2 separate regions of the Homo sapiens genome follow, and region 1 is linked to region 2. A link means that fine-mapping ties the variant in region 2 to the expression of a gene that starts in the linked region. Tissue or cell type: whole blood. Region 2 holds a variant in brackets; the other region holds the start of a gene. All regions are shown on one strand. Distances are between the middles of the regions.

Region 1 (6,842 bases), 52 kb after region 2:
TCAGAAATGTTTTTTAAAAACCACTCTGAACAGGAGAAAATCATGCTTTAAGCAGGGGATAATGGTCATTTTGCCTGAAGGACACTGTCCTTCCCTAACCCCACTCCTCTGAGCTTCTAAAAGCAGCAACATCTGTCCAGCACAAATGCACACCCCCTGGAAATTACAGGTCTCAAGGAAGCAAACTCCCGCCCAGGTTTCTCTTTGGCAGGTAAAGAAACCTCTCTTTCTCTTTGAGAAAAGACCCTAAGCCATACATAGTTTCTATCAAAACATCAAAAAATCCTAAAGTACAGAAATATGTATTTTCAGGGATTCTTGGAGCCTGCTTCGGCCTTCGGGAAAGCAATGATACATTGGCCTAGATATGAAGACCGTGTGTACCTGTGTGCCACGTCTGCTCGCCCTACCCAGCTCTTGGCCTTTTGTGGTTGTTATTCTACCCTAGACCATTAAAAGGGCCCTAATTCCTATGACATGATTATCCAGGTACCAAAGCCCATTTGTCACCTGCAGCAGAAAATTGAGTTAATGCACAACTAAAGGCAGCCAGGACTGTGTAATATCAACTTGATTACATCAAACTAGCTGCAAACCTAATTCTGCTGGATGACACTGCGTCGAGCTTGTCATCTCCAATCATTAAAGCTGTCAGGAATCCATCAGGTTTACAGCTAATTAGGTGAACACTAATGAAGCTGGCAAAACAACTTTTCTTTTTTTATGGCTGAGCGGACCTTTCAGTTTGGAGGGGAAAAAAATTCTCGAGTATTCTCAAGGTTGCTGGGGACTGGATTTCCAGTTACCAATCAGCAGACATCTTTCTTTTCCCCACTCTCTCTCTCTATCAGTACAAAGCAATCAATTTGTCATCACTCCCAGTATGCCACAAAAGCTGGCATGAACCTTATAACTTGCAGCTGGGAAAACTAAAAAAGAGGAGAAAAAAATGGGAAGTTTCTGGTCCATCCAAACAAACAAACCACCCCCAAAAAAAAAACCTCTGTGCATACTTATCACCAGCCTAAATGTGGAGTTTTTTTTTTTTCTCTCCACTCTTCTTAAATAAGTAGCTCTTCAGTCCGCCTCCACCCCCTCCTCCACATGTCCATTAGGCAGAGGCATTCTGATAAAGTAAATCCAAAACCCGAGTATGGGAAAGAAATAAAGCACTCATGCTGCCAGCTTCTGATTGACCATTAAGCTATTGATGAATGTGCCTGTCAGGAGAGAGACAATTAAATCAAATATGAAACAAAGTCGTTTTGACGGGTCATTTTGATAGAGCAAAACCATTCTTCCATCTCCTATTAGTCCTGCAGTCAAGTTTTTTATATAATGAATTTTTCTTAACTGACCTGAGATTTCCTGGCTGGCTTTCTTTAAAAAAAAAAAAAAAGTGTGAAAAGGTTAGTGAACAGGTTGCTCTAAAAATAAATAAATAAATAAATAAATAAAGCCAACAGCAGGTTCCCTCCTCCTCTGATATTTTTCTGGAGGAAGCTATCAAATACGAGTCTCAGATTGGCAGGGTGCAACCGAAGAGATGAACTAGAGAGAGAGTTCTGAACCAAATGTAAAGATGTAATCACATATGGTTCATTGGATGGAGGCACACACATACCTTAAAATGTGTATCCAAAAAGGAAAGAAAAAAAAAATTTCAAAGACTGGAAGAAGCCCAAGACATTCCTACTACTCAACTTTGTGAAGGATTCCTCCAAAGTTTCAGAGTTTATTTTGGGTAGATAAGCTCATTGCTTGAGCCTGGAATTTAAAGTAGAAGGTGGGACGGGCAAGAAGCAAGCTCCAGGAGGTTAACTAGGGAGGCGGCAAGCTCCCTACAATCACTCCTGGAATTTTCAAACTTTCTAAATTTGGGCAACACCGAGGACAGAGAGCAAAACCTGCATCCTAAGCCCCAAACCAACCCTGTTTTCTTCTGAGATTTTCTGAAGACACTGGCAGGCAAGTACATTTCTGGGAGAAGAGAGAATTATCATTCCTTCTCTGTGACCCCGTGTAAGGGGTCTGGAGTGCAGAGTGCAGCCAACGTGTGAGGTCCCCTGGCAGTGCCGGCTGGCATGATGGAAATTATGGGCACTCAGGGCACCATGGCTACAACGCCTTCCTCCAAGATGGGCACCAGCCAATGCCCTGACCCTACTCTCTGCCCTTCCCTCTTAACATCAAAAGAGAAGTAAAAGAAAGGAAGAGAAAAGAAAAGAAAGGAAGCCCCACTTAACCCTCCCCTTCAGGGAGCATCTGAACCTCTGCACATCTGAGTGTTACTCATATCAAAATACATCACGTCCATATGTGGTCCTCTCGGCAATCCGCCCCAAATCCCAAAGTTGCACTGACAGGGCCCTCCTGACGTCACAGAGCTTGGCCTCACTATTGCAAGTGATTTATTGATGTTTATTGGGAATGAATAGATCAAAGGCAGCAGCATGACGGGCGATCAATCAGTCATCAAATCAAGGATGGCAACGGGCCAGAAACCCTTCTTCCAGGCAACATGCCCCCAACCGACATTATTGCAAAATAATGTTATGTGTGTGGTTTTTGTTTTGTTTTCAATGATGCGTTTTCCAGAAAAGAAAAGAAAAAAATCGGCTCAGTCTTAACAGGAGTTGACACTCCCGGTTAAAGAAGAAGAAAAAAAAAAAAAAAGGAGGAACAAAAAAGTACTCAGACACGTCCCAGAACTAAGTGCTATGCGGAGATGAGGGTGGGAGCAGCAGTACAAGGAGGGGGTGGGGGCGAGGAAACACAAACAGGGGAGAAGGAAACGCCAGCATCTAACATGGACTTGACAGTCATCTGACAATACCCAGACCCTGTGCGCTCCGGGTTCCACCGCTGTGCCCAGTTTGGGCCCAAGAAATGAGGAATCAATCGTGTTAGTACTAAGGTGGCCGAGGGGACCGGCTCGCTCACTCGTTCGCGCTCCCTGGCTCGGCGGACACCAGGCAGTCCCCCGGCGGTCGGCCGCTCGGAGGACGCGGAAGATGTCCCGGGGAACTCAGGTGACCCCGCCCGCCACCCACAGAAAGAGCCAGGCCGGGGTTGCTTCCCATTCCCTCTGCAGCCGGAGAGCTGAGGAGGTAGGGACCTGGCGCGGCTCAGCGCGCTCCGCGAGCGGCTCCCCAAATGGGTGCGAGAGGGAAGAGGGCAGAGCGCGGCGGGGCGTCCGGGGGGCGCCCGGTACCCGAGGCGGGCGCACGCACCCAAACAGGAGAGCGGCGCCCGGAGTTACTCAGTGCGGGCAGAAGAGCGGGGCGAGGAGCGGGGTCGCGCCCGCTGGAGGCGCGGGGCGAGCGGAGGAAGAGGAGGAGGAGAGCAGAAGGAAGGGGAAGCGGCTCGTACCTGCTGCGCGCCGGGGCGCCTGCTGCTTCCTCCTCGGCATGATGCTTCTCCGGCGACTGCCACTGCCGCCGCCGCCGCCGCTGCCGGGCTGAGGACAGGGAGGGAGGGGGCGGCGGGCCCGCGGGGGGGCGAGGCGGGCCTGCTCTCAGCCTCCCCCCCGGAGAGCGGCCGCCCGCAGGATGCTGCTGCGCCCAGGCTCTCCGCGTCCCCCCCGCGCCGCGCTCCGCCGCGAACCCCGAACGTGCGGAGGGAAGAAGGAGGGCGGGCGAGGGAGGCTCGGGGAGGGAGGAGCACGGGGGGGAGGAGGAGGCAGAGGAGGAGGAGGTGGAGGAGGAGGAGGAGGACCGCGCTGCCGGCGGAATGGGAAGTTTGACAAATCGCTCCAGAGGCCAGAGGAGGAGGGGGCGGGGAGGAGCGGCGGCCCTGCCCCCCCCCGCCCCGTCCCCAGACGAGGTGCGCGGGGTTCGGGGCTGGGGGGCGGGGAGAGGGCGGGCAGAGCGGTGGGAGGAGGAGCGCGGGAGCGGCCCGGACCGGTACTGCCCCGGCCCCCGCCCCTAGGCCGGGGGTCACGGCATCCGGGGGGACGCGCAGCCGCCGCCGCGGCCCGGGGCTCGGCGGTCCAGTCTTCTGCCCGTGGCGCGGCTGGAGCGGCGGCGTCGGCAACAGGCAAGCTTAAAGGAAAAGGAGATGATCGTGTCAATCGCCCGCCCGCGGGGGCGCCGCGCCCCCGCCCCCGGCCCCAGGCCCGCGTGGGACCCCCGCCCCGCCAGCGAAAGGGGTGCCGCCCCTCCGCCTCCGCCCCGTGCGCACACGCGGGGGCGCGGCGCCAGCCCCGCCGAGCCCGTCCCGGGGCGCTCGTTACCCCCCACCCCTATTCCCACCCAGCGTTCGTCCCCAGCCACCCCCCAGCTGCCCCACCCGGCTCGCACTCCTCTCCACCCGCCGACTCCGGAGCCCCCAGCGTGGTCCCCGGGCCGGGGCTGGCGTCCCCCGGGGAAGCCAGAGCCCACGGGCAGGCCCCCTCCAGGGAGGAGGCGGGCGCGGGCCGGGGCGGGTGGGGGCAGCCCTCAGACCCCGCGCCACCCAGCTCCTCCCCCAGGACCCGCCGTAGCCACTTCCCCCAATTTTTTTTCCCCGGACAAACTTTCCTGGGCCCGTCCCGGGGGTCGGTGTGGGAGGGGGTTCCTTCAAGTTTCCTCTCCTGACTTTGGGATGATCAGGGTCCCTCCACCCCGCCCCTCGCCCCCGGGAGCCGGGCCGCGCCCCCCATCCACGGCGCGGGCCGATCCTAGGGCGGGACGGGGGCGGGAGAAGGAAACCGGGCTCCCCTGCCCATCCCCCGCCAGGGGCTCCCCCCGAGAGCCTAGGGGGCCGCCGCGCCGTGTCCCGCGCCCGGCCTGCCGGGGCTGCTGGACTAGAGGGATTGATTATTGATTGGTGATCGGGGTCGCTGAGGCTCCGGGCCGGCCCGGCCGACTGGCCGCGGCAAGAAGGAGCTGGCTGGGCGGCGTGGGCGGCGGGGCGACGCGGGCTCACTTACGGGCGGCGGTGAGGGCGCGGGTGGGCCGGAGCTCATGCGGGCGACCCCCGGGCGGCGGCGGCTGAGCGGGAGCCGGAGCCCGAGCGGCGCGGGCGGCGGCGCATCGATGCGCTGCGGGCTCGATTGCGTCTCCCTGGGCCAGCTCTCAGGCCGGGAATGGGGCGGCCGCGCCGGGGCCGGCTCCGGGCGCTGCCGGGCGGCGGCTGCTGGAGCGCGGGGGCGGCCTCCGGGCCCACTATCCCCGAGGCGGCCCTGCGCCCGGGCGCGCCGGCTGGGGCTCTGGCGCTCTCGCAGGCCCCGAGGCCGACAGTCCCGGCGAGGGCGGGCGCCCCGCGCTCCAGCACCGGCTGCCTGAGCGCTCCTGGAGCAGCAAACCCCAGACTTCTTCCTCCTTCTCTCCTTCCTTCCTTCCCCCTCCCCTTATCTTTTTCTTTTTTTAGTCTCTTTCTCCCTCTTTTTCTGCCCTGTGTCCTTTTTATTTTTTCTCTACGACTGTTTTTGCAAGTTTGTTTCAAAAGTTCACAGCATGCTTTCTTTTCTTTTAGACCGGGAGACAGTGATCTCACCCACACGGTAAGATCAAAAGTCTCCGCTCGCCCAGCCTGCGGGCTTGGGCTGGGTCCAGACGTCTCCCAGGATGCAGATGCGCCGCCGCTGGCCTCCCCGGCTATAAAGCCGCCTCCAGCGCCTTTCCGCGCGCAGGAGCGCTCGGAGTTGTGGGGTACGGACCCCAGGCGGGGCAGGGAGTCCGAGGCGGGCTGCGGCGGGGCTCTCGGGCTGGCGGACTCGGGGGCTGAGGCGCCGTGCGCGTTGGGTGCCCGCGGCCGCAGAGGCCAGAACCGCTACTCCTCCAGGCCGGGGAGACGCGGCCGTGGAGCGTGAAACGCTTCTTGCAAGCGAGGAAACGGTGAGTTGGCCGACACCGCCGGCGGCCTCACCATTCTGGTGGCCGCGCTGAGCTCCTGTCGCCTGGAGGCGGGTTGCGCCGCACGGGGTCAGCTCCCGCCGGCTCCCAGCTCACCTTCGAAGCTCCCACTTAGGCGCGCCCGGTGCGGCGTGTGCACAGCGCGGGGCGCCGCACACGGAAGCGTGTAGTTCTCCCTGGTCGCGCTTTTCTCCTCCTTTCCATCCCCTCGCTGTTCTTGCAAACCTCTGTTCCTTCGGCCCCCTCCCACTGCGGGCCGCGGCCTGAACTCGGGTCTCCGCGTAGCCGGCCGCCGCCGCTGGGTCGCTGCCTGGCCCTCCCCCGCTCAGGCGCCGAGCGCTGTGCGATCCGCCCTAACATCTGTCCGTCCAACCATTGGCGCATCCATCAGTGTCAATGGGCTGCACATTGCAGCGACAGCCCGCCACGCACAACACGGGCTATGCGGAGTGCACGCAGCAACCATACTGCCATGTCGGGACACGCAAAAAGGCCCCCGGCCTGGCTTGGCACAGCCTGAAGGCCTAATCTGTGTTCTTTCAGCCACATGTACCCACCCCCACTTAATATCTGGACCCCCAAACATGAATAGTTTTGCAGACCATTGTAGGGATGGAATTGAAGGAAGAGGGGCAGTGTCGCCCGAGTCATTATTTTCCACCAGGTTTTCTCTGCCCTTGTGTGGGCTGGGTGTGGCTAGGAGAGAAGGAAGGGAGACTTCCCAAATCCGCACCAAGCACACTGCAGAACCGGAAGCTACCTGGATGCAAGGGCTTAAACCCCCTTCACCTGGGCCTAGGATGTGTTGTCGAGGTCGCTGGCCAGGTTTTAGCCAGGAGGTCTCGCGCTAAAACTTTTTGGCCCCGCCTGGCTGCTGTGTGTGACATGGCCTGATGGAGAGGAGCTGGAGAGCGGAGGAAAACGTGGATCCCAGTGAGAACTAAGGGCCAGATTTAGGGAGAAATAGTGTCTGGATGGCAGTAAGTCTGTAATTCACATTTTGTT
Region 2 (6,842 bases):
AAAGTTTAGCCCTACCCTTTCTGCACTGAGCACCTGCATGGTAGCCACCATGACTAAGTGACCTTCTTAAGGTCTGTAGCACTGCCTGCATTGAGCCAGGACTGATCCAGCATTCAGCCAGCATTGACACAGTATTCAGCCAACACTCAGCGAATTCTCATCCAGGACTCAGCCAGCACTTAGCCAACACTCAGCTAGCACTCAGCCAGCACTGACCCAACACTCACCTAGCACTCAGCCAGGACTCAGCCAGCCCTGACCCAGCACTCAGCCAGCGGCACTCAGTCAGCACTTAGCCAGTACTCAGCACTCACTCAGCACTCAACAAGCACTCACTCAGTATTGACCCAGCTCTCAGTTAACATGCACCCAGGCCTCACTAGTGTGCATGTGAACACTGTTTGGATGGACAGTGAAAAAATCATTCTAGCCTGCTTGAAGGAACAAAGGTAATGGTCAAATGTTTCAATTTTTAAATAATTTTGACTGACATATACATGCCTACAGATTTCAACCTCATGTCTATATATTAAAACAGCTTTTCTCCAACCAATATATAATCTATTGACTGGTTGGCATCACAATATATGTTTCCTCTTAAGTATCCCATCTCACATTTTTATATTGACACTTATATAGTCTGAGTTGGGTGTTTCTTATGCTAGATCAGGAACCCTTAACACCTTACCATCCATCACAAGGAAGAGAGACAGAAAAGAGAGAGAGAAAAGAAACAATATAATAATGAGAACAGCACTCTCACTAACTGGTTCATGCCTTGCTTGCCTTCTTGTGGAGAATAATTTTGTAGTATATATCAAAATTGAAAATATCTACACTCTGACCCAGATAGCAATCTTTACTACAAAAACATTCATACATCATACATAGCCCCTCAACAATAACAAAAAAACCCCTCTATGATTAAGGGTGTTCTCATCAGTATTTCTTAGAATACCAAAGAAGTGAATAAACAAACTAAAGTATACCCATATCATGAAATACTATGCAGCAACTCACAAGGACGATAAGACAGAGATACCAGTGTCAGAGAAGATACGGAACACTGGAACTTTCCAGTACCAACTGTTACAACCATTTTGAAAATCTGTTTGTCAGTATCTACGAAAGCTACACTTACACATACTCTGTGTGACCTGGCAATTCTATTCCTAGATCTAGACCCATTAGATGTGCATATGTATTTCATCAAAAGACCTGTACGCTGATATCCTTTGATACGCTATTCACAACAGCAAAGCAACTGGAAAGGATTCAAATGTCTACCACCAGTAGAGTGAATAAATACACAGTGTCCTGTCCACATGCTAGAGTGCCATGCCACAGACAAAATCAACTGTTATTCAAAACAACATGGGAGGATCACAGCAACAAAATATTTTATGAATTCATTTATGTAAATTTCAAAATCAGGCAAAGCTCACCTGTGGTGTTAAAAGTCAGGACAGCAGTTACCCTTTGGAGGTGGTGGCTGGGGAAGGGCTGTGGAAATCCTGGAACACGAAATGTTCTGCCTCTGGACCTGGGCCCTGGAGGCACAGGTGTGTTCACCTGGGGAAAATTCCACCTACACTTATATTCGTATGCTGGCCTTTTTGTATGTTATTCTGCATAAAAAGGTTCTTTAATAATAATTTCAACTTTGGGGTTCAGGGGGTACAGGTACAGGTTTATTACATGGCCATATTGTGTGATGCTGAGGTTTGGGCTATGATGGATCCCATCACCCCAGTAGTGAGCATGATATCTAACAGGTGGTTTTTCAGCCCTTGCCCCTCGCTTTCCCCCACTCCCATCTAGTAGGCCCCAGTGTCCACTGTTCCCATCTTTATGGCCATGTGTACCCAACTGCTTACAAAGTTTAAAAATAATGATAATTCTCTAATTTCTCATATGAGGAGATCTCTAAGACATAGCAGAAGGTAGGAAAAGAAAATAAGTCTCACAAACACAAACATGGGTCTCTGTTTTCTGAGCAAGTTTGTGTGTGTGTGATTGTATGTGGGCACCCAGTGAAATAATCCTGGCCTGGATATTAGCAGCTGTCCTGCAGATGGAGGAGGCAGATACTGTTGTGGGGAATGGCATGGAGAGAGGAAGGGGAGGAAACGGGTGCCCTTCTGCACCGTCTGGAATGTTCACAAGCACACCTTCATGAAGTGCTGGAAGTGCTGTGAATTTTTTTTTTTTTTTTTTTTTTTTGAGACGAAGTTTTGCTCTTGTTGCCCAGGCTGGAGTCCAGTGGTGTGATCTCGGCTCACTGCAACCTCTGCCTCCCGGGTTCAAGCGATTCTCCTGCCTCAGCCTCCCGAGTAGCTGGGATTAAAGGTGCCCGCCACCATGCCTGGCTAATTTTTTGTATTTTTAGTAGAGACAGGGTTTCACCATGTTAGCCAGGCTGGTCTTAAACTCCTGACCTCAGGTGATCTGCCCGCCTCAGCCTCCCAAAGTGCTGGGATTACAGGCGTGGGCCACCTTGCCCAGTTAGTACTGTGTCATTTTGAAAGTTATAAAGGAATTTTTATTTGTAGCATGCACCTCCTGTGTGTCAGGCTCTATACTGGGCACCGTCAGCCTAGAAGACACAGTGCCTGGTCCCAGGGAGTGGGCATTTGGGGCTGCATGCCTGGGAGTCAGTGGAGAGTGGGTTCTGGCACTGGGGGTCAGTCACAAAGGAACAGGGGCCTCAGGTGCCAGCTCCACAGAATGCCAAAGGGCCTGGGACAGCTCTCCAGCCTCTCACCTTTGCTCTCTTCCGTGGCAGCATTCTCAGCATTCTAGGTGAAAGTGTCACCCACAGTGACAACAAACTATGGGAAAACAGAGACATAGGCAAACTATGTGCTGCAGTCCTAATTTTGACCTCAGTGGGAGCGGGAGGTGGGAGGCTGGAAGGGTGTTGGG[A/C]AATACCCAAAGCATCCAGGGGGCATAGCACCCCTAACCACAGGCAGGGTCTTGTCCCCCATTGTGGGAATCAGCGGGTTTCAGGTCTGTCCCTTCCTTTCAGGTTCAGGCTTGTTGTTCGAGGCCAACTGCCTCCTCCACTGGGCACAGTTCTCAGCTCCCCGCATCCCCTCAGAGGATCCCTCCTGCGGATCACGTCGCCAGCATTCCCAGGTCCCTGTGGTGGACTACTCGGGGTAGGCGTCTGTGTGGCAGGCAGGACAATGGAGACAGATGTGCAGTGAGACCTCTCTGGGCCCCACCCTTCTGCTGTGAAGACTGAATAAGATAACTACCAAGAGTAAGGGTAGCTTATTCCCTTCCTGTCTCTTTTTTTTGCCCATTCCTAAGAACTGCAGAAAGTTCTACAACCTCGATTTTCTAATTTTTTATTTTTTTTAAGAGACAAGGTCTTGTTCCATTGCCCACGCAGGAGTACTGTGGTGTGATCATGGCTCACCTGCAGCCTTGAACTGATCCTCGTGCCTCAGCCTCCCAAGTAGCTGGGACTACAGGTGCACACCACCACGCCTAGCTGATTTTTAATATTTTTTTTGTAGAGTCAGGGTCTAGCTATGTTGCCCAGGCTGGTCTTGAACTCCTGGCCTTCAACTCCTCAGCCCCTCAAAGCAGTGGGATTACAGGCATGAGGTGATGCACTTGGCCTGAACTTTCTGCTTCTAATGCAAGTGCTCTAGAAACACACAGGCTTGGAGAGGACACTCAAAATAAACCAGGATAGGTACAACCCCCACCCATTTCAGCTGCCACTTGCTTCCCTGGCCATCCCTGCCCTAATGCGTACTCACAGGTCCAGTGGTTATGCTCCTAAAACCCAGCTGTGAAATGCTCACCCTCTGCAGAGAGACCTGCTACTGGATCAGCAGACATTTCCTGAGAAAGGGTCAGTGGGCCACCACCTCGGGCGCAGGGATAGAGCTGTATGGAGCTCCTGCGGCCTCCTAGGTCACCTGTCACTCCTCAGGAGGTGCTCACGGACCTGTGAGATTTGTGTCTCTTGGCTTCCCTTGCACCCAGGGAAGGCCACTCTAGGGCTGCTCATGTGACCAGGAGCATTTCACCTCCCACAACCCAGCTGATGTGTCACATGACCAAGAGCTTTGCTGTCCCCGCCATCCAAAGCCCATTCTTCTCACCTCTGCATCCCCATAGCCCTGCAGAAACCCTACAGCTAGGCAGTCCCTTTTTCCCAGTGGGCTGGGTAGGCAAGGGGGTCCCAGCCCTCCCCATACAGAGCAGAGGGAGGGCTCTGCACAAGCCAGATACTCAGTCAATTTCTTTGAATTAAATCAAACTTTTAAATTAAAAGTTGACCCCATAGAAGAGCCGACTTCATGCTTGTTCTTTTTGTTTGTTTGTTTTGTTCCATTTCCTTGAGACACTTCGGCACCAAGCAGCATTTCCGTAAAGAATTAAAAGCCCAGAACCAATTGTGGATGCACAGAAGCCTCCCATCTACCTGCAGCAGTACTGTCTGGGAACGGTCCTGGCCCATTTTGTGGGGCCTTGCACTCCTGGGGGTACCTTCTGCACATGATCGCTGCCCAGCTATAAACCAGCCCGAGAAGGAGCGAGAGCCGTCCATGGGCTCCATGTCATGGATGAAGAGACTGACGCTTAGAGAGACAGAGAATAGGGGATGAGGACACAGAACGAGGACTGGAATTGGGAAAAAAAAGCAGCCAGGGCTTTTACTGCTGGATCTCACTGCCTGTCTCCAGAATACACGTTTAAAATGTACTACTTAAGAGTGAAGAAACCGAGAGAAGGTCTCCTGATTCTTTAAAAGCGTGACACACAGCTGGGCACGGTGGCTCATGCCTATAATCCCAGCACTCTGGGAGGCCGAGGTGGGTGGACCACCTGAGGTTAGGAGTTCGAGTCCAGCCTGGCCAACATGGAGAAACCCTGTCTCTACTAAAGGTACGAAAATTAGCCGGGCGTGGTAGCGGGCGCCTGTAGTCCCAGCTACTGGGGAGGCTAAGGCAGGAGAATTGCTTGAGCCCCAAGGGCGGAGGTTGCAGTAAGCCGGGATTTCACCACTGCACTCCAGCCTGGGTGACAGGGCGAGACTCCATCTCAAAAAAAAGTGTGACACACAACCGCATGGCGACTCTCTCTGACCGGAAAGGACAGTAGGCTGGAGTCCGGCCACGCCACCTTGGCAAGGTGTGCTTGGTGAGTCTGTTCATCTCTCAGCCTCAGTCTCCCCACTTGAAAAATGGGACAATATCATCACCTCCCTTGGAGGGCACGGGGAGACACAAACTATGCAAGGTAGATAAAGCAAGAAATGTCACACGTGTAGCAAGGGTGCCCAGAACCCTCTGCTGGTCGCAATTGTGGGATGCGGGTGTTTTTCTTCTTGATCAAGAGGGAAAGTCATTTTTATTTAATCTGAAAATACAAATAGAAGGGCCGCTTTCTGGATGTAGCAAAGCCTGAAAGTCCATGAACACCCTGTGACAAGGTTATGGGGTGCAGGGGAGAAGTCGGGCCCTGGGTCAGCATCCCTTGACCATCATGGATTAATCTGCCTGTGCTCCAAAGGTCCCCGTGTCCACACATAGCAAGGGGGCTCAAACGCTGCCTTACAGCTGTAAGACTCCTACTGTGCAAAGTTCTCAGGACCAAAAAGAAAAATTACTTCGGGGGTCTCTCACTGACTGGGTCCGGGACCCAAGTCTCTGAGGCTCAGGGCAGCCCTCTCTGTTGGCAGCCTCTTGGAGGGGACAGTAGGAACACTGTATCATCGCCACTGTGAACACAGAATGTCACATGAGCAAAGACACTTGTCAAATGCCTTTCCTTTACACGCACCCTCACCATGACCTGTGTTAATGAAGTTAATTGAATTTAAGATCAATAATGGTTAATTATTGCAATTTGACATTCAGAGATAAATGGCTTTAAGACAGAGAAGTATGTGTGTATGTGTGAGCACGCGAGAGAGTGTGTGTGTGTGTGTGAATTCTCTCCAAAGAAGGTGAATGCATTACAAGCCTAAGAGGGATCCCACAAGCCTTCCATTGATTCTGGTACATTGTGATCGACTTCATCCTCTGATAAATGTGGGCTTTTCAGAGCTACAGGTAAATGTTCTACGAGACTACTCTAACCCTTGTCACTGGCCAAATCTATACGTGCTGTACACCAGAAATCTATTGAGATAGATTAAAGAACTGCTGTAGAAACAAGAGCAGCTTCAATAAAGGTGAAGGTTTATTATATTGACTATTAATGTAACTTAACTGTATGCAGTTATGAATGCTTATAGATCAGGGCAGTTTAATTTGGGGCAGTTGGATATGATTATAATTGAACACAAATTTTTTTTATATCACCATAGATGAACTCAATTCAATGTGGACAAAAAGAAAAAACCAACCTAGCTTGGAAAGTAGCTAGGTTATAACCAAAGGGTGAATTCCTAGGGAGGGATGGCCCCAGGAGAGCTGGCCCAGGTCCAGGCCTCTCTAACGATGCACTCGCCGCACCACCTCCTGCTCCAGGTCCCACAGCGTGCATGGAGCTGACGCCCCAGCAGTCTACAGTGGCCCCACAAGCCTGGGGTCAGGGCTGCTAAGTGGCTCCTCTGATTTGATCCAAATTGGTAAGAAGTTTAATTTTCAGGAGAGATTCTCGGTAGGAAGTCACAGCCCCAAATGCATTAATAATGACACTCCTCCATCCACCCAGAACCAGCTAGATGACCACTTACAAGATTGATAATGACAAAGTAAATGTTGTCAGGAAGAAAGTCCTACTGATTGCGGAGCACTGACAATACCGTGCGCCTGAGGAGTTCTGTCAAAATGTAAGATTATGCAAAAACACCGTTGAGAACACTGCTAATC

Evidence for each region. PIP is the estimated chance that this variant, and not a neighbour inherited with it, causes the effect.
Region 1: TSHZ3 starts here. The variant in region 2 is fine-mapped to the expression of TSHZ3 in whole blood (TOPMed, PIP 0.93).

What each region holds. Positions count from the first base shown.
Region 1 is chr19:31,345,808-31,352,649 of GRCh38, forward strand. It overlaps TSHZ3 (teashirt zinc finger homeobox 3), which reads right to left and starts at 3,629. Exons shown (of 2, transcript NM_020856.4): 1 at 3,373-3,629. The coding sequence starts at 3,412. It overlaps TSHZ3-AS1 (TSHZ3 antisense RNA 1), which reads left to right. Exons shown (of 3, transcript XR_002958388.2): 1 at 1-3,110. RefSeq lists an enhancer at 6,836-6,842.
Region 2 is chr19:31,294,129-31,300,970 of GRCh38, forward strand. All of the region lies in intron 1 of TSHZ3 (teashirt zinc finger homeobox 3), which reads right to left. Among named protein-coding and RNA genes, the nearest start is that of TSHZ3-AS1, 24 kb to the right of the region's middle. The variant A/C (reference allele first, on the strand shown) is at 2,926.